Linked DNA regions of Homo sapiens. The protein of the gene in region 7 interacts with the protein of the main gene of each other region in a pairwise test. Each region holds a gene or a part of one and is shown on either strand. Other genes may lie near its edges. The genes, in order: NPPB, ZNF366, CCL28, RBFOX2, PWWP2B, RBM42 and PSMA3.

What was found.
Region 1: the proteins of PSMA3 (region 7) and NPPB interact in binary tests that used the Homo sapiens proteins (3 or more experiments, as listed by UniProt).
Region 2: the proteins of PSMA3 (region 7) and ZNF366 interact in binary tests that used the Homo sapiens proteins (3 or more experiments, as listed by UniProt).
Region 3: the proteins of PSMA3 (region 7) and CCL28 interact in binary tests that used the Homo sapiens proteins (3 or more experiments, as listed by UniProt).
Region 4: the proteins of PSMA3 (region 7) and RBFOX2 interact in binary tests that used the Homo sapiens proteins (3 or more experiments, as listed by UniProt).
Region 5: the proteins of PSMA3 (region 7) and PWWP2B interact in binary tests that used the Homo sapiens proteins (3 or more experiments, as listed by UniProt).
Region 6: the proteins of PSMA3 (region 7) and RBM42 interact in binary tests that used the Homo sapiens proteins (3 or more experiments, as listed by UniProt).

Annotation. Positions count from the first base shown.
Region 1 is NC_000001.11:11,856,964-11,860,120, forward strand, and holds NPPB (natriuretic peptides B preproprotein), read right to left. Parts: upstream 1,983-3,157; 5' UTR 1,871-1,982; coding exon 1,739-1,870; intron 1,507-1,738; coding exon 1,251-1,506; intron 709-1,250; coding exon 692-708; 3' UTR 501-691; downstream 1-500.
Region 2 is NC_000005.10:72,458,911-72,462,410, forward strand, and holds part of ZNF366 (zinc finger protein 366), read right to left. Parts: intron 2,601-3,500; 5' UTR 2,587-2,600; coding exon 1,255-2,586; intron 1-1,254. UniProt on the Homo sapiens protein: Has transcriptional repression activity. Acts as a corepressor of ESR1; the function seems to involve CTBP1 and histone deacetylases.
Region 3 is NC_000005.10:43,402,392-43,405,891, reverse strand, and holds part of CCL28 (C-C motif chemokine 28 isoform a precursor), read left to right. Parts: intron 1-3,500. UniProt on the Homo sapiens protein: Chemotactic activity for resting CD4, CD8 T-cells and eosinophils. Binds to CCR3 and CCR10 and induces calcium mobilization in a dose-dependent manner.
Region 4 is NC_000022.11:35,808,825-35,812,324, forward strand, and holds part of RBFOX2 (RNA binding protein fox-1 homolog 2), read right to left. Parts: intron 1,181-3,500; coding exon 956-1,180; intron 1-955. UniProt on the Homo sapiens protein: RNA-binding protein that regulates alternative splicing events by binding to 5'-UGCAUGU-3' elements. Prevents binding of U2AF2 to the 3'-splice site.
Region 5 is NC_000010.11:132,395,774-132,399,999, reverse strand, and holds the start of PWWP2B (PWWP domain-containing protein 2B), read right to left. Parts: upstream 2,801-4,226; 5' UTR 2,774-2,800; coding exon 2,649-2,773; intron 2,405-2,648; exon of another isoform or gene 2,098-2,404; intron 2,072-2,097; exon of another isoform or gene 565-2,071; intron 1-564. UniProt on the Homo sapiens protein: Chromatin-binding protein that acts as an adapter between distinct nucleosome components (H3K36me3 or H2A.Z) and chromatin-modifying complexes, contributing to the regulation of the levels of histone acetylation at actively transcribed genes.
Region 6 is NC_000019.10:35,632,036-35,635,110, forward strand, and holds part of RBM42 (RNA-binding protein 42), read left to right. Parts: intron 1-900; coding exon 901-966; intron 967-1,041; coding exon 1,042-1,217; intron 1,218-1,651; coding exon 1,652-1,984; intron 1,985-2,220; coding exon 2,221-2,338; intron 2,339-3,075. UniProt on the Homo sapiens protein: Binds (via the RRM domain) to the 3'-untranslated region (UTR) of CDKN1A mRNA.
Region 7 is NC_000014.9:58,268,843-58,272,504, forward strand, and holds the end of PSMA3 (proteasome subunit alpha type-3), read left to right. Parts: intron 1-1,575; coding exon 1,576-1,643; intron 1,644-2,091; coding exon 2,092-2,156; intron 2,157-3,008; coding exon 3,009-3,053; 3' UTR 3,054-3,162; downstream 3,163-3,662. UniProt on the Homo sapiens protein: Component of the 20S core proteasome complex involved in the proteolytic degradation of most intracellular proteins. This complex plays numerous essential roles within the cell by associating with different regulatory particles.

The DNA.
Region 1 (3,157 bases), on a different chromosome or scaffold from region 7:
GGGTTGGAGTTTTGAAGGCTCCTTTGCAGGATGACCCCAGGAATTGGAGTTTCAAAGCTGATATTTGGGGCAGGATGGAGGGCTCACCCCGGTATGGGAATGTAGATGAGCCACACCCACACACACTGCCCCCAGTCGTTGACATTTTAGCTGAGACCTGAAAGCAATAATCCCCAGGGAGAGTGCTTTAATGGTGGAATTCCAGGCAGAGCAAGGACGAGTGGAGAAAACGGCTGGATACGTGCCCTCAGGTTGCACACGTATCCTGCCCTGCTTTGAAAAGCAGTTTCTCCCAAGTGCCTCAAGTGCTTGAGATATTCAATAACATTTCAGAGCATTAAAAACTCTGAAAGAAAAGAAAGCCTGCTACCTCTGAGGCCACATCCTCATCCCACCATGAAGATGCCTTGAGATCACAGGGCTTTGTGGTTTTAGTTGGGTTGGTTTCTTTGAAATGAGGGATTATTTTTAATGCGCCAAGACAAATCAGTTTCAAAAGATAAAGCTTATAATGTTGACTTTATTTCACCGTGGAAATTTTGTGCTCAAAGGTAAGAAACCATCTTATATAAAACAATCAAATAAATACATAAATACATTAAAAAAATGAGTCACTTCAAAGGCGGCCACAGGGTTGAGGAAAAAGCCCCTTGTGGAATCAGAAGCAGGTGTCTGCAGCCAGGACTTCCTCTTAATGCCGCCTCAGCACTGTCAGGGAAAGAGAGAGGGTGATGATGGTTAGGGTGGGAGATGGAGGCAGGGGCTGAGCTTACCTCATCGTGTGCCACCCACCACCCTGTTAGTCATCAGACGTTTGAGGCTTAATGCAACTCTCTGAGCCTCAGTTTCCTCATCTGTAAATTGGGGATTATCATTGCTCTGGTGATCCTGCTCTCTGCCTTTGAGACTATAGACAGTTTAGAGGAAACCAGGAGGAAATGTTTGGTTCTCTTTCTGCACCACTGGGGGGCTGCCAAATGATAAACAGACCCCCAAAGGAGATTCTGCCCCTTTGATAAGAAGTAGGAGGTGGGGAGAAGGTATTGTGGGCATGGTAATGAAATAAGCCCACATTTACTAATTCCACAAAGGCACCCCTTGGCCCTGAAGGCTGTTAACAAGAGGAAGCGATGTCCAGGTGACCTTTTCTCAAAGAGTGTGGTTCCCAGAGACAACAAACCCCAAAGTGACTCTAACAGTGTCACACACTGGAATGGGGGAAGGCGGCCGGGGTGGCAGGGGGTGCTTACCTTTGCAGCCCAGGCCACTGGAGGAGCTGATCCGGTCCATCTTCCTCCCAAAGCAGCCAGACCCTTGCACCATCTTGGGGCTTCGTGGTGCCCGCAGGGTGTAGAGGACCATTTTGCGGTGCCCACGGATGCCCTCGGTGGCTACCTCCCGGGACTTCCAGACACCTGTGGGACGGGGGCTCTCCTGGAGGGGCTCCAGGGATGTCTGCTCCACCTGCAGCTCCGACAGTTTGCCCTGCAAATGGTTGCGCTGCTCCTGCAATGAATGGGGGCGTCCAAGCCTCAGGGACCCACCCCTGGGCTCACCAGCCCTTCATGGCACCCAAGTGAACCGACTGCCTTGGGTACAGGGTCAGGGCACCCAGTCTCTCCATTTTCTGATTCCTTTATCACTAATTCCAAAGGAAAGATGAGGGCCTCTTGGGACAGCAGGTGAGGACCCTTTCATTGCTGCTGTCCAATCCCCCTGAGCTGCCCTCCGCTCTCACCTGTAACCCGGACGTTTCCAAGTCCGAGGCTGAACCGGGGCTGCCCAGCGGGTGGGAACGACCTCCCAGGAAAGCCAGATGCAAGAAGAGCAGGAGCAGGAGCGCCCGGGAAGGTGCTGTCTGGGGATCCATGTCTCTGGAGGGACTGCGGAGGCTGCTGCTGCTGCTTCTGCTGCTGCTGCTGCTGCTGCGATGCGTCCGGGTTTGCTTCCCACCTGCCCTCAGCCTGCGGGGTGCTCCTCCTGGCTCCTCGGGACACCGTGGCCTTTTATCCTGGAGCTGAGTGTCGGGCCTGCCCTGCCATGCAGGGTTATCTCTGATTTATCAGCCACATTCCGGGCCTCTGAGATCAGGGCCCGGGAATGAGCCCCTCCGCGCCTGCGACGTGGGAGGTGGAGACCGGGCAGAGCCGACCTTGTATAGAAATGGGCCGGGTCGGGCCGGGGGGCAGGAACGCGCTGGAGACACAGACAAGTCCCCGTCTCCCGCTTCTTCCTTTCCTGCAAATGTCCAGGTGTCCTAGGTTGGCGCTTTCTTCCTGCCTCCCCACCCCACCGTTGCTGGAAAAGGCAGGGAGGACCCCGGCTTTCCGAGGACCGACGTGAGCGCGGGGAGCACGGGGTGACTCACAGCGAAAACAGCCCCGGCCAAGACCCCGCCACCCGCGGCGCCTCTCCCCTCCCCGCGCGAGTTCCCTGGCCCGCACGTAGCGCAGCACCTGCTCGCCGCTGTGCACCCTGCCTGCCTGCGGGTCCTCGGGGGCGCCCTGGCCGCTGTCCGTGGTGCTGATCACCCCGAGGGAACTTGGAGCAAACTCTCAAGAGCTGCTCTCTTCAACGGGATTTTCAGGCCAGAAAGACCTGCGTGGAGCAAGGACAAGAGACCTCCGAGACCTTTCCCTATGCTCTCACAATCCGCCATCTTATAGTCCTTACAGCAACGGGATGCTGATTCCCCAGTGGCAATTCATTAAAAGCCTGGGTATGACCAGGAACTTCTGGAATGCTGACCCTTCTTTCACTCCTTAAAGGGAAGAGCAGATTTCGCTGGAATTTTGAGAGATAGGGTCCAGTGATGACGAAGTCACCCAAGAATGCCTTATATGTGTGTCCTCCACGTGTCAACACCTCCTCTCCCCCACCAAGCCAACACAGGATGGAAAACAAAAGGATAGGCTGGGCATGGTGGTTCACGCCTGTAATCCCAGCACTTTGAGAGGCCGAGGCGGTCGGATCACGAGGTCAGGAGATCGAGACCACGGTGAAACCCCGTCTCTACTAAAATTACCAAAAATTAGCTGGGCATGGTGGCAGGCGCCTGTAGTCCCAGCTACTCGGGAGGCTGAGGAAGGAGAATCACTTGAACCCAGGAGGTGGAGGTTGCAGTGAGCTGAGATCACGCCACTGCACTCCAGCCTGG
Region 2 (3,500 bases), on a different chromosome or scaffold from region 7:
TCTTCATATGCTCTAAAATGCACTTTTGATTCCTTTCCCACATATAAAGGAGCCCCTGAAGTTAGCGAATGGTCCCCTTTACGGCTGAATCCCAGTCTGGGTCCTTTGTTGATGGTTCCTGCACTTGGCAGGCGACTCCCCTCTGGATAGTATCTACAGGTACCTTTTGTAGGGCAGGAGCTGTTTGTGCAGAGCCCACAAGGCAGCCACACATTTCATCTCTGTGGCAGAGCCAGAAAATACCCTGTGTTTTGTCCTAACCTAAGAAGTGAAACGTATTATAGCACAGCAGAAACATTATCTTGGCTGGGCAAAGTCCTCTCCTGACCTTTCAGAATTAAAGAATGCTTTAGAAACTCTGGCTTGCTAGAAGTCTTTCCTGCCAAGAAAACCACTTGAGGTTAAGGGTGTGAGAGTGGGAGTCAGTGGGGGCAAAACTCCCTCTCGGAGGCTCAGAGCAGGTTCCATACTTTAGCTGGGGTAAGATTTCAGGAACACCACTAGGGCCTTGTTTTAGTTCAGCCTGAATGACTCCAGGGCTATGGTTGCAAACTGGGCTGAACTCAGACTCTTGGGCCTGTATTTCCCCTTGAAGACCTGAGCACAGAGAAGATCAAACAAAACCAAACAGAGAAGGATGCTTTCTCATGCCTCCTACAATGTAAACCACAGGGCACTTCACCCAGCTAGGCACGGGTCCAACGCAGGGAGGTATAGGCCCTGCCGGCCTCAGCCAAGCTCTGCTTCCCTTGGAGAACTTGCATATGAAGCAGGTCTCACAGTTGAGGGAGAAAACAATCCAAAAAGTTTTCCACTGCTTCAACAGTACAAGACGAAGAGAATTATCCAGAAGGTGCTCCCTGGCACATCCCAGGCACAGAGCTGATCTAGGGTCTGATGACTTACTCATGCTAGTGCCTTGGATGAAGTTTCTAGAAACCGAATCTGCAAGATTCTTGGAGGCTAGGGAGCATCCTTCCTCATCTCCTCTGCAAATGTCTGCATTATTTATTTCTAGGCCTACCTTAGAGTCTAGAAGGCTGCTGGGGCAAAGGGCTTGGTCGAGAATCGTTCTCTCTTATTTAAACGTGAGGAAGGACCTCAGGGCTCGGCCAAGGGACCGCTTGTCCGGGGTTGCCCACCTCCTCGGGGTAAGGTGCAGAGCGGCACAGGCGTCCTGCTCCCCAGTGCTCTGCTCAGGGCCCCGCTCCTCTTCCCAAGGCCCCGTCCGCCCCACCAGAGGCCCCGCAGTACCTTGTGGGTGAGGGAGTGCTGCTTGAGGTGGTGCGGCTGCACAAACTCCATGCCACACTCTGAGCAGATGTAGGGCCGGATGTCCTTGTGCTTCATCATGTGGTTCTGCAGCTGGCTCGGGTACTGGAAGGTCTTGTCGCACTCGGAGCAGTTGTACTGGATGGGGCCCCGGTGCGTGGTGAGGTGTCTCTTCAGCTGGGCCAAGGTGGGGAAGTCGAGGCCGCACTCCACACAGATGTTCTCGCGCCCACTGGCGTGCTTGGCTTCGTGGGCCTTGAGCTCGCTGGGGTAGGCAAAGCCGCGGCCGCACACGCGGCAGTTGTGCGGCTTCACCTCGCTGTGCTGCATCATGTGGCGCTTCAGGTGGCTGGTCTGGGTGAAGGCCTTGTGGCACACCTGGCACTTGTGGGGCCGCGTGCCCTGGTGGGTCAGCATGTGGGTATGCAGGTGGCTGAGCTGCTTGAAGAGCTTCCCGCAGTGCGTGCACGCGTGCGGCTTGATCCCACTGTGGCCCAGGATGTGGGTGACCAGGTTGTACTTGGAGGTGTAGGACTTCTCGCAGGTGGGGCACTGCCAGCGCTTCTGCGAGCCGCCCACGTCCACGTAGTAGCTGTCATCGATCTGCACGTTCACGTCCACCCTCTCCACCTTCTGCTTGGTCTCCTCGCTCTCCTGGGGCTCGGCTTTCCGGGGCAGCAGAGGTTCCGGGGGCTGCTTGGGCAGGAAGGTGTGCCGGCTGAAGGGGAAGGGCGAGGACGAGGGCACGAAGAAGGGGAACATGAGGCCCGGGTGGACTTTGGGGTAGTAGGGGTAGGGCGTGGGCAGGAATGGAGTGGGCGTTGGCTGGGGCCACACGGCGCTGGGCTTAATGGGTTCCTGCTTGACGGGCTTGCCCCCAAAGTGTTCCAGGCTGCGGTAGAATTGGAAGCCCACGTTGCACAGGTCGATCATCTGAGAGTCATACTTGGGGCGCGGGGGCTGCGGGAACAGCAAAGGGAGGTTGGGAAGGCCGTGGTTTTTGTTCTCCTCTGAGTGGAGGGCGAGGGTGACTTCTTCTGCAGGGTGGTTATAGGGCATCTTTGTGGGCATGCTCTTCCGTTTCCTAGACCCTGCTCCTTCGAAGACCCCGGGGAACCCATCTAGGTCTCCTGGGGGAGGTTCATACCGAAACTGGGAAAATGGCCCTCGGAGAGCTTCCGGGAAGGGGTGTCTTTGGGGAGCCTTTCCCCGAGAAGCCACTGGCTGCAGGCAGTGGGGAAAGGAGGGGGTCTTCTTCACAGCCAAGTCGAAATGCACATCCTCGTCTTTGATCATCTTCATTTCCTTCTGCATCCTTGGCAATTTTCCTTTAAAGAGAAAGAAACTTGTGTGTTTTGGTTTGGTTTTGTTTAAAATTCTCTTTTTCCTTAAGGATTATGGCTATTTATCAGTACTAATTTATGAAGAGTAGTACTTGCTTAATATGGACCCTCATTTATCCTAGGGCTGTTCAAAATATCGCTTTTCTTTCTCCTTGCAAACCCAGTTATCAATATGGATAGCACTGGCCTCTTGGGGTGACCCTAGGGCTGAATCAAATTGGGCTCCAGTGTAAATCCAGCCACAAAACCACAAGGGGTGATGGTAGCAAGGGAAGTGGACTAGTTTGGGAAGAAACCTGAGAACTCATCTGGCCATTGTCCCCATTTAAGATCAGGGTACCAAAGTCCAGATAAATGAAATGACATTCTCAAGTTACATAGGTACTCACTGAAGGAGTGAGCACTAGACCCATTCTGCTGCAGCTTTTCAATCTGAGTTGTAATTACATCTACTAATGGTGATTGGAAAGTGACTTTTAGGGTCTTTTCTTTGTGTAAGGAAACCAATTTTCACTGCTACTCCCTTGCTTGGGCCTTTGCTGCTGGAAAATGAGGATATTCAAAGCCTCATAGGAGAAGGGATGTTAATGCTTAACTCAGATCTAATCGTTTCTGAGTATCCACTCTGAGTAAGGTGTGCTACTAAGGCATAGGGAGTGAATGACATAAACATGATTTTAAAAAGCATATTGAGTAGCTCAATGTTATAAAGTCATCCTGGCAATGTACACATTCCACTCTTAAACCTGAAGCAAGCTGGAATGAAATATTCCTTTATTATGTGAAATAAAGCCGCACATGGGTCTCTCCTTTCAGACAGGTGTCAAAGTAAGGGGCAGGCTTGGTGACTCCTGTGGTGCCTGACATGTCCCCTGCTGACACAGC
Region 3 (3,500 bases), on a different chromosome or scaffold from region 7:
TTTTCTAGCTTATTTGCATAGAGGTGTTTATAGTATTCTCTGATGGTAGTTTGTATTTCTGTGGGATTGGTGGTGATATTCTCCTTATCATTTTTTATTGCGTCTATTTGATTCTTGTCTCTTTTCTTATTTATTAGTCTTGCTAGTGGTCTATCAATTTTGTTGATCTTTTCAAAAAACCAGCTCCTGGATTCATTGATTTTTTGAATGGTTTTTTGTTTGTCTATCTCCTCCAGTTCTGCTCTGATCTTAGTTATTTCTAGACTCCTGTAGGCTTTTGAATGTGTTTGCTCTTGCTTCTCTAGTTCTTTTAATTGTGATGTTAGGGTGTCAATTTTAGATCTTTCCTGCTTTCTCTTGTTCACATGTAGTGCTATAAATTTCCCCCTACACACTGCTTAAAATGTGTCCCAGAGATTCTGGTATGTTATGTCTTTGTTCTCATTGGTTTCAAAGAACATCTTTATTTCTGCCTTCATTTTGTTATGTACCCAGTAGTCATTCATGAGCAGGTTGTTCAGTTTCCATGTAGTTAAGCAGTTTTGAGTGAGTTTCTTAATCCTGAGTTCTAGTTTGATTGCATGTGGTCTGAGAGACAGTTTGTTATAATTTCTGTTCTTTTACATTTGCAGAGCAGTGCTTTACTTCCAACTATTTTGGAATAAGTGCAATGTGATGCTAAGAAGAACGTATATTCTGTTGATTTGGGGTGGAGAGTTCTGTAGATGTCTATTAGGTCTGCTTGGTGCACATCTGTGTTCAATTCCTGGATATCTTTGTTAACTTTCTGTCTTGTTGATTTGTCTAATGTTGACAGTGGGGTGTTAAAGTCTCCCATTATTGTGTGGGAGTCTAAGTCTCTTTGTAGGTCTCTAAGAGCTTGCTTTATGAATCTGGGTGCTCCTGTATTGGGTGCATATGTATTTAGGATAGTTAGCTCTTCTTGTTGAATTGATACCTTTACCGTTATGTAATGGCCTTCTTTGTCTCTTTTGATCTTTGTTGGTTTAAAGTCTGTCTTATCAGAGACTAGGATTGCAACCCTGTTTTTTTTGTTTTCCATTTGCTTGGTAGATCTTCCTTCATCCCTTTATTTTGAGCCTGTGTGTGTCCCTGCACTTGAGATGGGTCTCCTGAATGCAGCGCACACTGATGGGTCTTGACTCTTTATCCAGTTTGCCAGTCTGTGTCTTTTAATTGGAGCATTTAGCCCAATTACATTTAAGGTTAATATTGTTATGTGTGATTTTCATCCTGTCATTATGATGCTAGCTGGTTATTTTGCCCGTTAGTTGATGCAGTTTCTTCCTAGCATCGATGGTCTTTACAATTTGGCATGTTTTTGCAGTGGCTGGTACTGGTTCTTTCTTTCCATGTTTAGTGCTCCCTTCAGGAGCTCTTGTAAGACAGGCCTGGTGGTGACAAAATCTCTCAGCATTTGCTTGTCTGTAAAGGGGTTTATTTCTCCTTCACTTATGAAGCTTAGTTTGGGTGGATATGAGATTCTGAGTTGAAAATTCTTTTCTTTAAGAATGTTGAATATTGGCCCCTACTCTCTTCTGGCTTGTAGAGTTTCTGCTGAGGGATCAGCTGTTAGTCTGATGGGCTTCCCTTTGTGGGTAACCCGACCTTTCTCTCTGGCTGCCCTTAACATTTTTTCCTTCATTTCAACTTTGGTGAATCTGACAATTATGTGTCTCAGAGTTGCTCTTCTTGAGGAGTATTTTGTGGCATTCTCTGTATTTCCTGAATTTGAATGTTGGCCTGCCTTGCTAGGTTGGGGAAGTTCTCCTGGATGATATCCTGAAGAGTGTTTTCCAACTTGGTTCCATTCTCCCCGTCACTTTCAGATACACCAATCAGACGTAGATTTGGTCTTTTCACATAGTCCCATATTTCTTGGAGGCTTTGTTCATTTCTTTTTATTCTTTTTTCTCTAAACTTCTCTTCTCACTTCATTTCATTCATTTCATCTTCCATCACCATACCCTTCCTTCCAGTTGGTCGAATCGGCTACTGAGGCTTCTGCATTCGTCACGTAGTTCTCGTGCTGTGGTTTTCAGCTCCATCAGGTCCTTTAAGGACTTCTCTGCATTGGTTATTATAGTTAGCCATTCATCTAATCTTTTTTCAAGGTTTTTAACTTCTTTGCCATGGGTTCGAACTTCCTCCTTTAGCTCGGAGTAGTTTGATCATCTGAAGCCTTCTTCTCTCAACTTGTCAAAGTCATTTTCCATCCAGCTTTGTTCCATTGCTGGTGAGGAGCTGCGTTCCTTTGGAGGAGGAAAGGCACTCTGATTTTTAGATTTGTCAGTTTTTCTGCTCTGTTTTTTCTCCATTTTTGTGGTTTTGTCTACCTTTGGTCTTTGATGATGGTGACGTACAGATGGGGTTTTGGTGTGGATGTCCTTTCTGTTTGTTAGTTTTCCTTCTGACAGTCAGGACCCTCAGCTGCAGGTCTGTTGGAGTTTGCTGGAGGTCCACTCCAGACCCTGTTTGCCTGGATATCACCAGCGGAGGCTGCAGAACAGCAAATATTGCAGAATGGCAAATGTTGCTGCCTGATCCTTCCTCTGCAAGCTTCATCTCAGAGGGTCACCCGGCTGTATGAGGTGTCAGTCGGCCCCTACTGGGAGGAGTCTCCCAGTTAGGCTACTCAGGGGTCAGGGACCCACTTGAGGATGCAATCTGTCCATTCTCAGATCTCAAACTCCATGCTGGTAGAACCACTACTCTCTTCAAAGCTGCCAGATAGGGACGTTTAAGTCTGCAGAAGTTTCTGCTGCCTTTTGTTCAACTATGCCCTGTTCCCAGAGGTGGAGTCTACAGAGGCAGGCAGGCCTCCTTGAGCTGCAGTGGGCTCCACCCAGTTCGAGCTTCCTGGCCATTTTGTTTACCTATTCAAGCCTCAGCAATGGCAGACGCCCTTCCCCCAGCCTCACTGCCGCCTTGCTGTTCAATCTCAGACCGCTGTGCTAGCAGTGAGCGAGGCTCTGTGGGTGTGGGACCCTCCAAGCCAGGCATGGGATATAATCTTCTGGTGTGCCGTTTGCTAAGACCATTGGAAAAGCGCAGTATTAGGGTGGGAGTGTCCCGATTTTCCAGGTACTGTCTGTCACGGCTTCCCTTGGCTAGGAAAGGGAATTCCCCGACCCCTTGCACTTCCTGGGTGAGACAACGCCCTGCCCTGCTTCAGCTCACGCTCCATGGACTGCACCCACTGTCTGACAAGCCACAGTGAGATGGTCCCAGTACCTCAGTTGGAAATGCAGAAATCACCCGTTTTCTGTGTTGCTCACGCTGGGAGCTGTAGACTGGAGCTGTTCCTATTCGGCCATCTTGGAACCGGCACACACCAATTTTTTAGAACAGAAACAGGATCACAATCTACATATTGTCTTAACACATATTTTAATCATAGATAACAGTATATCTATTCAACACAAAAAGTTAATTCTGAAAATCTGCATCTTCATCTTACATAAAACATTTAAACTTCC
Region 4 (3,500 bases), on a different chromosome or scaffold from region 7:
CCTGGACAACAAAGCAAGAGACAATACAATTTCCCATATGTTGGTATGTATGAGATATATACCTATTATTAATTTATGACATTTCCTTTACTTTAGCAAGTTAGTAGTAAGAGGTGAAGTCAAAGAGGTAAGCTGGGGCTAGAGACTAGTAAACCAAGTACGGAGTTCAGATTATATTCTAATTGCATTAGGGAACTATTAAGAGTTAAGTAGGAAATCGGCATTTGCATTAAAAAAAAAAAAAAACCACCTTAGTCCTATGTGGAGGATAGATAAGTTAGGCAACAGTAATACCGGAAATAAGTGATGAGGTTTGGACTAGAGCAGTGATGATGATAAATTCTTTTAAATTTCCTAACAGCCTCTTCAGGTAGGTACTATTATCTTCATTTTAGAGTGAGCCAAGGGCAGAGAGATTAAATAACTGGTCCAAGGTCACACAGTTTAGTAGGGGCCATATTGAGATTCAAACACAAGCAATTTGGTGGAAGAGTAATAAGATGTAGAGAAGAAGACGAAGTAGTTTTAGAGTTATGGTTGTCAAGACTTGCTAATCAATTAGATGTACAGATGAAAGAAAGAAAGAAAGAATATTCCTAGGTTTTGCTTGAGTTTGGTAGTATAATTATGCAGAGAAAGGATATAAAATAAAAAGAAAAGGGGTTCCAGGACCTACATATGGAGTACTGCACCATTTAAAAGTTGAACAGAGAAGGAGGCAGGAGCAGAACACCCAGTGCTTGGCAGGAAAATTGGGAGAGCTCGAAAAGCCAAGAGACTAAGTATTTCTAGGAGGAGGGAGGACAATGTATACAATGCTGTTGAGAGAAGGTGTAAATGAGAACAGGTGTAAATGCTAAATTAATTCCGAGAGTCTTCTAATTGTATAATTAAGGCGACAATTTCTATATGATTGCCATGCATCCTTCCATTTTTCACCTCATGGTCCACGTACCGTAAGAGATCCATTTTGTGTGCTGGGTGAGTTGCTGCTCTGCTCCCCGTGGGCTTGCGTACTTCCGTAGAGTGTCAGGTTATGCTCACCGGTCTGGCCGGCATAGTCTTGAGTGTGTGGCACCCCATACTCTGTGGGAATTCCATTCTGCGGAGGTGGTGGAAATGGGATGGTAGTAAAAGGCTGAACCATTGCGTCAGGAGTTGTTGTCGGCTCCTGGTTACCCTAAAACAAACAACAAGAGAAAGAAAAAGTGACTTTGAATCCTTGTTACGTAACTATTTTTAAAGTGAGTATATGGAATTCTCTGAATATTCTCTCACTGCATAGGTAAAATGGAATGCTTATTGCTCCAGGATTGGAGAAAATATTATTACACATACACACATAGATATATGTATGTGGACAGACACACACACACACACACACACACACACACACACACTCACTTTTGTTAATGTGTAGTTACTAGACAGGCCCACAACCATATTTAAGTGGACTAGATGCCAAAGGGGCAAAAATCTTTCCTTTAAATTAAAAGTAGGTGGAGAGCCCACTTTGGACCACAAGCCACTACAGCCTATACCACAGAGAGAGACTCTGTCCCTAAAAAATACGAAAAACAAAAAAGAAAAATCAACTAGGAGAAAATATTAGCAAAAGGTAAGAGAGATGCTGGGTTATTATCACTAGTCCCAGAGTGGGTTAACCAAGTTGACAAGACAGACACACATGTACACACAAACACACACACATCCCAAGAGAAAAACAGGCAAACTGTGTATCTGAACAATTCATTGAAAATGAAATACAAACAACTAATAAAAATGCTCAACCTCACTAACTGTCACGAAAATTCACATTAACATCAAAGTAAGTCCAAGTCTTTAGTCATCAAATCAGCAAAAAAATTAAGCAGTTTTATTATGATATAACTGTCATATGATAAACAGCACTTATTTATTTACAGTATACAATTTGGTAAGTTTTGATATATGCACTTATATTCTCATGAAATCATCACCACAATCAAGATAGTCAACACATATATCCAAAACCCCCAAAAGTTTCCTTGTGCCCCAATAATAAACATATATTACTTTTGTAATAAAACCTATACAAATATATTGTTTTTAATACTAAAGAGAATGACAAAAAATATATCATCAATAAGGGGAAGCCAATATTCTGAAACACTGAATTACTGTGTTACTCTTAAGAGAATGGTAGTGACCTACCTTGAAACAAAAATTCATAACTCTCTTCCATTTAAAAGTTAAACAACTTCAAAATTCAGCTGTCTCCAATGTCCAAGAATCATTTCTACTTGGTAATAAAAACTGCTTTACACAATAGTGGTGAAAGAAAAAAGGCAGAGAATTGGGGGTGGGGGGCTGCCACAGTCTAGATAAAAAGTGATGAACTGATTACAGTTATCAGTGGGAAGGGGCAGAGTCATAGACTGAGTTGTGCTCAGTCTCCAACCCGTATGTTGAAGTTCTAACCCTCAGTACCTCAAAATGTCACTGTTTTTAAAGATAAGGTCTTTAAAAAGGTAATTAAAGTGATGTCATGAGGGTGGGCCTTAATCCAATTGGAGTGGTGTCCTTATAAGAAAAGGGAATGTGGATACAGACACATACAGAGGGAGGCCCATGTGAAGACACAGAGCATGACCATCTACAAGCCAACAAAAAAGACATCAGAAGAAACCAACCCTGCTGACACCCTGATCTTGCACTTCTAGCCTCCAGAATGGTAAGAAAATACATTGCTATATTGTTATGTAATACTTTCTTATGGCAGCCCTTGCAAACTGGTAAAGGCAGGAATGAAGATTCTGTAACAGAAATTAATAATAAAAATAAAAATAAATTGCTTTACATAAAAATTTTCCTGCTATTGGACATAATGGTTCATGCCCTTGTAATCCCAGCACTTTGGGAGGCTGAGATGGGAGGACTGCCTGCGGCTAGGAGTTCAAGATCAGCCTGGCCAACACAAAGAGACCCTGTCTCTAGAAAAACTTTAAAAAATTAGCTGGGCATGGTGGTATGTGTAGTCCCAGCTACTTGTGAGGCTGAGAAAGGAGGACTGCTTGAGCCCAGGAGCTGGAGGCTGCAGTGAGCCATGATTGCATCACCCTAGCCTGGGCAACAGAAAGACCACGTCTCTTAAGGGAAAAAAAAAAAAAAAAAAGGCTGGGTGTGGTGGCTCACTTCTGTAATCCCAGCACCTTGTGAGGCTGAGGCGGGCAGATCACTTGAGGTCAGGAGTTCAATACCAGCCTGGCCAACATGGTGAAACTCCATCCCTATTAAAAATACAAAAATTAGCCAAGCATGGTGCCAAATGCCTTTAATCTCAGATATCTTGGAAGCTGAGGCAGGAGAATCGCTTGAACTCAGGAGGAGGACATTGCAGTGAACTGACATCGCTGCCATTAAACTCTAGCCCGGGCAACAGAGTGAGTGAGACTCCATCTCAAAAGATAGAAAAAAAAAAAAACCCCTCTCTTTAGTTCTTAGAAAATATGTTATGAAAA
Region 5 (4,226 bases), on a different chromosome or scaffold from region 7:
GGTGTGGTTCACAGAGGACAGTCCCCTGACCTTTCCAGCAGTCTGTGTCTGGAACCATAGGCAACCCACAACTGGGGGAGGCCGATAAATACCAGCTCAGAGATGGAGCCAGGAGGCTCTGGTGGGGCAGGCCAGCCCTTCCGCACTCGGAGCCTCGTCTGTCCTCAGGCCACCCCTCAGCCAGGGCCACCCCACCCAAGATCCTCAACCAGAAGCATGTCCCCAAATCACCCACAAAACAACGCAGGTCAGGACAAGGCTTGTGTCATCGATGCTCTGGAAGGAACCACCACCACATTGGCCCAGACTGGGGGAAGATCACTGGAGGCCGCCTGCTCCGGGCTCAGCCCACTTCCTGGCACACAGTAGGTGTGCAGTGAACTCACCCAGATGTACACGCAGGCTGACACTCAAGAGAATCTTGCTTCAGATCACATGGCCCTTGTGGCACAAGCCAGGCAATTCCACCCACCTGCCAAGCCCCTCTCCCCTCTGCTTTGCAAGCAAGGGAGAGAATGCCATCTCCCAAACCGGCCGACAACAAACGCTGGCTGCTGGGCCCACCTCAGCCCTGCATCCCGGCGCCTGTGTGAGCGGGGCCGCCATTCCCGTGGGATTGCTCTGAACAGGTGCCTGGCTGCCCGCCGCCTGCGCTCAACAGCGCCGGTTGTGCTGGGACCCACAGGTTCCCTGAGGTGGGCGGACACCTGTCATAGGGCTCCCAGCAGCTCTTCCCTGTGAGTCAGCACCCACACTTGGGGACTGGGCCTCCACTGTCACATGCAGGGGATAAGGGCGGGCACCACGCCCTGATGAGAAACTGGCACCTGGGGAAGGCAGGTCAGCACCCTGCGGTCCGAGGCAGGGCTGGAAACAGGAGCCCTGGGACTCGGAATACAAGGGCAGAGAACCGGCTGGAGACTCAGGCTCAGGGGAGATGAGGGAGGGGGCGGGGGTCCTTCCAGGACAAGCCTCAGGACTGGGGCTGGGGGAGAGGAGAACAGCCGGACAGACTCAGGCACAGGGGAGATGAGGGAGGGGGCAGGGGTCCTTCCAGGACAAGCCTCAGGACTGGGGGTCGGGGAGCCTGCTCTACCTTCAGATTCCCCACAAGGACAAGGGGGCCAGCCCAAGGCAGCAAGGTTGGCTGCTAAGTGGCTGTGCCCGCAGAGGCCCAGCGCCCGGCTCCGTGGGCGGCTCTGGTTACAGCTGAACGTGGCAGGCAGGGTTGACACCCATGCATCCTACAGCTGCCAGTTCCCACGCCGGGGGTCCCATCGGGCCTGGTTTTTTCCATGAAGGGGAGGCGGTGGTGTAGATTTGCAAACCAGGTTAGCCATGGGCCTCAGGGAGGAGAGCCCGAGGCCACTGCAGATATTCTCAGCCTCCCTTGTCCCGAGTCAAGGAACCTGGGAAATGGGGCAACCCACTGCCGCTCGTGCCCCTCTTCAGGGAGGAAAGGCCAGGCAAGGTGGTGCAGGTCTGGCAGGGGTGCGGCCCTGCTGACCAGGACCAAGCCCAACCCTGCCCGCCAGAGGAAGCTGAGGCCGATGGTGGAGGGGATGGCAGCTCCCAGGTGGCGATTCTCACCCCCCGAGTGTCCCTCCATCCTGCCCGTGCACTCCCAGCGGTAGCCCACACGGAGCGGGCAGGAACCACACGGGAGCCATATGTTAAATCACGTGACTTGTGGATAAATGGCTTCTGGCACATCTAATGAAGAGATAACGTCTGCGAAATAATTGTGGAAGGAACACGGTCCTCTCTGCTAATTCATGTCACCAGGCAAAAATCTGGGCTCCACGGATGGAAAAAGTTGGGCCTTTACAAGAGGAGCCTTTCCCTGCTCCCAGTTTCAAAAGAAAGCCCTGCAGGAGCGCAGCGAGGCCACAGCCTGATTCATGCCTAATCATTGATCTGGCAGCGACAGCTCCCTGCCATGTGACGCGGTGTCCAGGAGGCTCATCTGCACCGCATGGGTCCCTGCAGCCCGTGCACAGGTGCCTCTCAGGAGGAACCGCCCCGCCCTGCCCTGCGCCCCCCACCCAGGAAGCCAGGGCTCCCGGGGGATGTGCCCACGGCTCCCACAGCTTGTACCTCTTCACGCCCCCATGACTCAGGGCTCCCTGGCCTGAAACTGTTCTTAAATCGCACAGCTGGGCGCAACTGCTCTCCCCGAATCCAAACCTCAGCCGCGGAGTCACTCCCAGCAGCCAGGGGCCCGTGGCCTTCGACAGGGCACCCCCACCTGTGAGGAACTGCCAGGGCAAGGCCACGGCGCATCTGACCCTCCCCTGCTTTAACGACAATTCTGCCAACAGTCGAATTCAACAGTGGCTCTGAACAAAGAAAAGTGCATTAATTATGGCAGATGTGTGGAGTTCCGGGACCCCGGCCCCGCGCCCCCCGCCCCGGCCCGCCCCGGCCCGGCGCCCGCCCCGAAAAGTCGCGACGACTTTGAGAACCACTTTTGCCCCCCCGAGTGGCGGCCGCGCTCGCGCGCCCCGAAACTCAGGCTCGGCAGAAACCGAAAGCGGGCGCCGGGGCCACGCCACCCCCAACCCGGAGGCGGGTCCCGGGTCTCCGGGCGGCGGAGGCGGGTGTCGCGTGGGGACCCCGGGGGTGTCCCGGCCCGCGCCCCCGCTCACTTTTTCGTGCAGTCCAGCAGGATCCCCGCGAAGCTCCGCTCGCCGCAGCTCACCGTGACCACCAGCGCGCCGTTGACGACCTGCTCCACCCGCACCGGCAGCCGGCAGCCGGCGCGCGGCTCCATGCTCCCGCCGCGTCCCAGGCCGCCCCCGCCCCGCCGCCGCCGCCGCCGCCGCCGCCGCCGCCGGGTCAGCCCCGCGCGTGACGCCGCCCCGCGGCCGCCTGACGTCACAAAGCTCCGCTGGGGCGGCCGCCACAGCCGAGCCGAGCCGGGCCGGGGGCGCGCGGCCGCGGGCTCCGCTCCCGGGGACCCCGCCCGCCGCCGCCGCGTCCCGGGAGAAGCCGCGCCCGCCCGCAGAGGTCGGCCGGACGCGCGGTGCGGACCCCCGGGCTGGAGAGGGGGCTGCGCCCGGGCTCGCGGCCCACGCTGGCCGGGAGTGTCCCCTGGCTCGGGAGGACCCGAGAGCCACGAGCCCGGGGGCGGCGGGGGGGACACCCGCCGCGGCCGGAGCCCCGGGACCCCATCCCCCCGCTCCCCTGCCTGGGGCCGGTCCCGGGCCCCCCTCCCCCTCCGGGCCCAGCCCTGCGCCCTCCCTCCCTCCCCGGTGGCCCGGATCCTCCCGCCTGGGGTCGGCCGCCCGCGTGTCCCGGCAGCGCCCCGCGCTGGGCTCTGGTGGCCCCGGGCACTGCGGCGAGGAAGTCCCGGGCGGCGCGCGCAGGAAGCCGGGGCAGGCGGAGGGGACGCGGGGCGCCCGGGGGCAGCGGCCTAGTGTCGCCCTCGCCGCGTGGGGGGCGGGACACTGGGTCGCCCCACTGGGCTCGGCGCCTCTCGGGGCGACAAGCGGGCGCGCGCCCGGCTCAGGGCCACCCTGCGCGCCTGGGGGTGGCCGGCACCGGGGCCCGGGGGGTTAACTCCCTCCGGAGGTCTCGGGCGTGTCTCTTCGGGTTGCCGGGCCCAGGGGCCAGGCGCGCCTCCGCCAGTTTACAAAGGAAACAGCCTCCTTCCCCCGCGGCAGGGGCTCCCCGACCCGCGGGCGAGGAGTGGGAGGTGACGGCGCCGGACCCCCTTCCCCCAGGCGCCCGGCTCCCGCGCCTTCAGGCGTCAAAGCCCCCGACTTCCCCGAGCACCAGCACGTCCGCACCCGGCTCAGAACGCAGGGGCCCGGCCTGCTGCGGTGACCTTGGCCCCGGGCCGGGCTTCTGAGCCGGACTTGCAGCGCCTGACGAGGCCTGGAGGCGGGGCGGGGGACCGCGTAGTTGTCCTGGCGACCCAGCGCCGCCGGGCAGGGCTCCTCCCAGCCTGGGAATTGAGGACCACCGCCCCTGGTGCCACTGGGGACCGTCGGGTCGCTGGCGCCTGTCGACCTCGCCCTCCGGCGGCCGCGCGGCAGTGGGAGCCTCAGAGAGGAGCCAGGGCGGAGTGAGGGAGCCCGCGGGGCCTGGGACACCTGACCGTCCGGCTAGAACAGGGGTAGGGACCGAGGCCGAATGAGCCAGAGTTCTGGCCGGGGACAGTCCCAGAGGAGGCCTGGAAGCCCAGTGAGTGTCTGTCCTCCTCTGTGTGGCCTGGGGCTCCC
Region 6 (3,075 bases), on a different chromosome or scaffold from region 7:
TAGGACATTACTTCCTTATATGTATGAAAAGGATGCGTGTTCTTACTTGGATGTAAAATTCTGGTATAATCTCGGTTAAACCAAACGTGCTACTTATGTTACCTAAATCCTGTTATACTTATTAATCTGATGATCTCTGAGAAGTTGTAATGTCTCTTACTTTTTAGTATGGTTTTGATCAAAATGCAAATCTGACCTACTTCCCCTGCCCAGCTTCCAACCCTGCTGTGGCTCCCCAGTGCCCTCAGGAGGACACCCATGGCTCAGCCAAGAATGCTGTGCTTTAAGAACAAAAAAGCTCTACTGGGGTGCCTGCTGGCTGCTCAGCCCTTCTCATGACACTCTCTAAGCCCCACTACTTCTATTACAGTTACACTAAACTGAAAAGGGAAAGGTTTTGCTTATAAATATTCTTCCTGCCAATAATATTCCCACTCACCCCTTGCCTAACACTTCATTGCCCCTTGGGTCTCAGCTCACAGGTCCCTTTCTCCAGGAAGCCTTCCCTGGGCCTGGCTGGGTCAGAGGGCTCCCCTCTCTTAGCACTGATCCCACTGCCTGGGCTTCCCTGCTTCCAGCGCTGGTCCCCACTGGCTCTCCTTCTCTAGTGATGTCTCCATTCCCTCCTCCTCTGGACCAGGAGCTCCCTGAGAACCCTGGGTCTGTTGGTGTGTCCCCAGCATTGCCTGCCACAGGGCTGAGCCAGAGGAGCTTCTCAGTGGTAAATTTTCATGGAATGAACCAGGGGAGAGGCCCCCACATCTCCAGGAGGGCTCCCCAGACTCTTCTCCAGGATTTCTTGATGCTGAGAGTGCACACACACACACGCATGCACACACACACCTTGTCCCAAGTGCCCCTGTCCCCCATGACACACACCCCCATCTCTCTCTCCCACAGCTGTGGCCCCCCAGAGGGCCCCTATCCTGCGTCCAGCCTTCGTCCCCCACGTGCTACAGAGAGCAGGTGAGGGGCCAGGGTCATCATCCCTGCCACATAACTCCCCCCAGGCCCTGGAACTCCCCACTAACACCCTGACAGATTCCGCTCTCTCCTCTGCAGCAGCCGGCCCCCGCCCTATGGCCCTACGGCCCCCTCACCAGGCCCTCGTGGGCCCCCCTCTGCCTGGGCCCCCTGGACCACCCATGATGCTGCCACCAATGGCTCGGGCTCCAGGGCCCCCGCTGGGCTCCATGGCTGCACTGAGGCCCCCTCTGGTGAGTGTGAACAGGGAACTAACGGTCAGATGTGCGGTGGACGGGGAGACCATCCATCCTGGCCCAATGGGCTATGTCTGAGTTGGCCTCTCTCCTGACTTTCTGTTTCTCTACCTTCTCACTCTGCCTTTGTCTCTGTCTCTTTCTGCATCTTTCTGTGGCAAAATCTGTTCTCTCCTTTTGTGAAGGGAGTACAGAGAGAAACATGCTATTGGAATATTTCTCTTTTGATTGTTACTGATGTTCTTGTCTGTGGCTGTCTCTCTCTGCCTGTGTTTCTCCTTCTCTGTGTTTGTCTGGCTGGAGACTCTCTGCTTGGGTGTCTCTTGGCTGCTCTCTGGCCCCCAGGCCCTTTCTTTGTTGGATGGAATGGAGATGACAGTAAAGTCTGAGCCTGTGAGCCGGCCCCCCTCATGCTCTCCTCTTACCCACAGGAAGAGCCAGCAGCACCCCGAGAGCTGGGCCTAGGCCTGGGGTTGGGCCTGAAAGAGAAGGAAGAGGCAGTGGTGGCGGCGGCGGCTGGGCTGGAGGAGGCTAGCGCGGCTGTGGCCGTGGGGGCAGGAGGTGCCCCAGCTGGCCCTGCAGTCATTGGGCCCAGCCTGCCGCTGGCCCTGGCCATGCCATTGCCCGAGCCTGAGCCCCTGCCCCTCCCGTTGGAGGTCGTCCGCGGCCTCCTGCCCCCGCTGCGCATTCCTGAACTCCTGTCCCTGCGTCCTCGGCCCCGGCCCCCTCGGCCAGAGCCACCCCCAGGCCTCATGGCTCTTGAGGTAAGCAGGGAGCCTAGCGGTGAAGGGACAGAAGGGACGGGGGGCAGACAGGAGCCCAGGAACTTCCACACAGACAGACCGGACAGCAGGAGGACCTGGGGGAGGGAGGCGGACACATGTGCCCCACATCCAGAAGCACATCCAGCCCTTACTGTGGTGGCAGGAGGGCCGGGGACCAAAGGACAGTGGGAGACCCCAATACCAACCCCTTTGCACCTCTCCCCTTTCCTCTGCAGGTCCCAGAGCCCCTGGGTGAAGACAAGAAGAAGGGGAAGCCAGAGAAATTGAAACGGTGCATTCGCACAGCGGCAGGGAGCAGCTGGGAGGACCCCAGCCTGCTGGAGTGGGATGCAGGTAAGCTGCTGAAGCTCGAGGTCAGGCGTGGCTCGGCCAAGGTCAGACCAGGCTGCTGTCCTTGGGCTGCAGACTGGGAGGGTGAACCCTCTCAGTAGGGTGGGCGCTGTTGTTAGCCCACCTTGGGGAGGGGAGGCTATGGCTCAGGGGCTGGTTCTTCACCTAGCCATGGGCCGGAGCTTGGTGGAGGTGACGGGGACATGGGGCTTTGTAGCCTGTTTTACTCATGAGGTGCCTGGCTTCAGAGAGCATTCTTTTTTTTTCCCAACTCTTAGGATAAAAATTTTTTTTTTTTTTTTTTATGAGACAGAGTACCACTCTGTCGCCCAGGCTGCAGTGCAGTGGCGCAATCTTGGCTCACTGCAGCCTCCGCCCCCCAGGTTCAAGTGATTCTCCTGCCTCAGCCTCCCAAAGTGCTGGGATTACAGGCATGAGCCACTGTACCTGGCCGGGAAAAATTTTAAACACAGATGGCACAGTAAACACCCGTCTACCCACCACCTAGATTCTGCAATTAACATTTTGCTGTGTTCACTTTTTTCCTCTTTGTGTATGTATCTGGTTTCTTTGTTTTTAGCTCAGTCATTTGAAGCAAGTTATAAGTGAATTAATCACTTCTAAATATCTCAGTATTTATCTCCTAAGAAAAGAGATATTTTGGCCAGGCACGGTGGCTCACACCTGTAATCCCAGCACTTTGGGAGGCGGAGGCAGGTGGATCACTTGAGGTCAGGAGT
Region 7 (3,662 bases):
ATAGCAAGGTTTTAGAAGACCCTCCAAAAAGTAAGGTATGTAACTCAGTGCATAGTATTAGATAAAGCTATACTCTGCTACTGTACTTAATTTGATACTTTTTTTTTTTTGAGATGGAGTCTCACTCTGTCGTCCAGACTGGAGGGCAGTGGCACGATCTTGGCTCACTGCAACCTCCGCCTCCCGTGTTCAAGCAATTCTCCTGCATCAGCCTCTCAAGTAGCTGGGATTACAGGCGCCCACCACCACACCTGGCTAATTTTTGTATTTTTAGTAGAGACAGGCTTTACCATCTTGGCCAGGCTGGTCTTGAACTCCTGACCTTGTGATCCACCCACCTTGGCCTCCCAAAGTGCTGGGATTACAGATGTGAACCACCGCACCTGGCCTCTTGATACTTTTTATGTTACTTTAATATGTTGCATGACAGTGCCTCCTTCTTTGCTGTAATTTGTAAGGTACTACAATGTGAAGGCCAGGTTATGTGGCATATATGCCATTATAAAATGGACAAGGAGCTTAAAAAGACTACTGCCAAGAAGCTATAGGTTGAAGAGACCACTAATAATTGCAAGCACATAAATTAGTTTTTTTTTTTTTATTTTTTTGAAACAGAGTCTCACTCTGTTGCCCAGGCTGGAGTGCAGTGTCGTGATCTCAGCTCACTGCAGCCCCTACCTCCTGGGTTCAAGCAAGTCTCCTGCCTCAGTTTCCCGAGTAGTTGGGACTACAGGCCTATGGCCACCTCACCTGGCTAATTTTTGTATTTTTAGTAGAGACGTGGGTTCACCATGTTGGCCAGGATGGTCTCGAACTCCTGACCTCATGATCCACCCGCCTCTGCCTCCCCAAAGTGCTAGGATTACAGGCACGAGCCACCATGTCCAGCCAATTAGTTGGTTTTAAATATATTTAAGTTAATGGACAAAATATTCTAAAAGGGCACAGTTAATGACGCCTCTTCCTAGTGAATCCGTGTTCTTTATGAGGTATCTTTTATAGTTGTATCTTTTTTTTTTTCTGAGATGGAGTCTCGCTCTACTGTAGCCCAGGATGGAGTGCAGTAGTGTGATCTTGGCTCACTGCAACCCCTGCCTCCCGGGTTCAAGGAATTCTCCTGCCTTAGCCTCCTGAGTAGCTGAGATTACAGGCGCCCACCACCACACCTGGCTGATTTTTGTTTCTTAGTAGAGACAGGGTTTCACCATGTTGGCCAGGCTAGTCTCGAACTGACCTCAAGTGATCCATCCGCCTTGGTCTCCCAAAGTGTTGGGATTACAGGTGTGAGCCACTGTGCCCAGCCAAGTTATATCTCTAAAGCAATGTGCAAAAATAAACTGAACTTGGGTTGATTAGGTATATTCAACATTTGTCGGGAGAGTAGATGTTTCATTTTATTTCAGTCCCTGTGTAATTTGTCTTCTCTAATGTTAAATACTATGTAGAATGTGTCTGTGTAATTTTATAGATACTTTTATTATGGATGGACATTCTAATTTGTACTGACTTTGGGTCTGTGAACTACTTCAATGTTTGGAGGTTACCAAAATCTTACCTTTCCCTTTTCTATTCTAGAATTTACATAGTACATGACGAAGTTAAGGATAAAGCTTTTGAACTAGAACTCAGCTGGGTTGGTGAATGTAAGTTATTTTTGTACATTTATTTGCCTTAGGAATGATCTGTACCACAGCTAATTTACAACTGAGTGTCCTTTCTAATATAATGAAAGCTAAAGCAAATTTACTAGGTTGTCTAATGAAGGGAAAGTTCTGCTTAATAATTGACTTAAGTTGTGAACACGTTATTTTTTGAAACATCCATTTCATGGTTTTAAGATACTATGCTATAAATTAATGCTCAGGATTTATAAATAGCATAATTTACTTTCATTTCCATAAGAACTTAATATGTAGGCACATATAATCTCATGTAGAAGCAGCACACAAAAATATTCGAGTATTACTCATAGTACAACTTTGCAACCTTAGGTGAGTCAGATATGTGGATTGGGTAGATCCTATGGTATACTGCAAGTTACAATATGGTACTCAATTTAAAATTCATTTACACATGTGGCTTAATTTACAGTAACTAATGGAAGACATGAAATTGTTCCAAAAGATATAAGAGAAGAAGCAGAGAAATATGCTAAGGTAAGCCACAGCACAAAAACTTCTCTTGGCCAGGTACAGTCAGGGAATCACTTAGCCCAGGAGTTTGAGACCAGCCTGAGCAGCACAGCAAGACCCCCATCCCTAATTTAAAAAAAAAAAAATTCTCTAACCAAAATTATGTGTTGAATAATATAAATAGACTGGGGTGGTTTCTATGAAATAACACTGAGAGTTCAGTTGAACTAAAGATAGAAATTTTCTAGGTTATCTCTAGTGGGTAAAGTTGCCTTGGTTCCAAAAAAAAAAAACTTGGGAGGTTTAGACTGCAAAGAGTTTTTTAGGACTTTTAATACTTTAAATATTTGTTCTTTTTTTTTTTTTTTTTTTTGAGACGGAGTCTTGCTCTGTCACCCAGGCTGGAGGGCAGTGGCACCATCTCTGCTCACTGCAACCTCTGCCTCCAGGGTTCAAGCGATCCTCCTGCCTCCGCCTCCCAAGTAGCTGGGATTACAGGAACATGCCACCATACCTGGCTACTTTTGTATTTTTGGCTTCACCAATAATACAGAGACGGGTTTTCACCAGGCTAGTTTCAAACTCTTGAACTCACGTGATCTGCCTACTTTGGCCCCCGTAAAGTGCTGGGATTACAGGCATGAACACTGCACCAGGCCTCTTAAGTATATATTCTATCAAAGATACAGTCATTGCATGTTAGAGCAACATTTGCTTAATTAACTTTGCTTGGGTATCTTATTCTGAAACTGTTCATTCAGTTACAAGTAGAGGAATTTAACCACTTAATTCAGGTTGTTGTAGCTTAACTTGCCCACAGGTGTGGGATATAACAATTTTAAAAATCAATTTTAAACACCTGTTTTCTCTTAACAGGAATCTCTGAAGGAAGAAGATGAATCAGATGATGATAATATGTAACATTTACTCCAGCATCTATTGTATTTTAAATTTCTACTCCAGTCCAATGTAACTATTTAGCCCTGGATTATACATACTGTCCAATTTTCATTAAATTTTTGTCTTATAACTATTGAAGTTTGGTTAATATCTGCTTTACAAAATTGGTGGGGGTAAATGAGGACATTTACTCAGTATTAAAATATAGATTTATGACTACTGAAAAATTCCCTGGTTAAAATGCTGCAGAATTAATTCCAAGACTGTAGATTAATTCAAAGCCCCATCTTCATCACTCAACTAGAATTTACAGATCATATTCTCCTGGGCTTTTGTACAAAAAGCACCTACCAACTTAGTGGACAAATAACTGATACGGTTTCCCACTTTCATATGAAGTAACTGGTGGTCATCAGTCACTGTTAATCTTTAGATGTGATACAGATGACAGATGTTTCAGTTTTGGATAATTTTTCAAAAACTGACCCTTCTCAAAAAAGACCCTTCAATACATGAGTCAAGGATGTTTTTGCTTTTTTCCTTTATTGTGGTGAGGGGCGGATTTAAGGATCAATAAAGTCCCTATTCTGTCACTAAAAAAATTTCTTGATCTCTAAAGATTAAAATAAA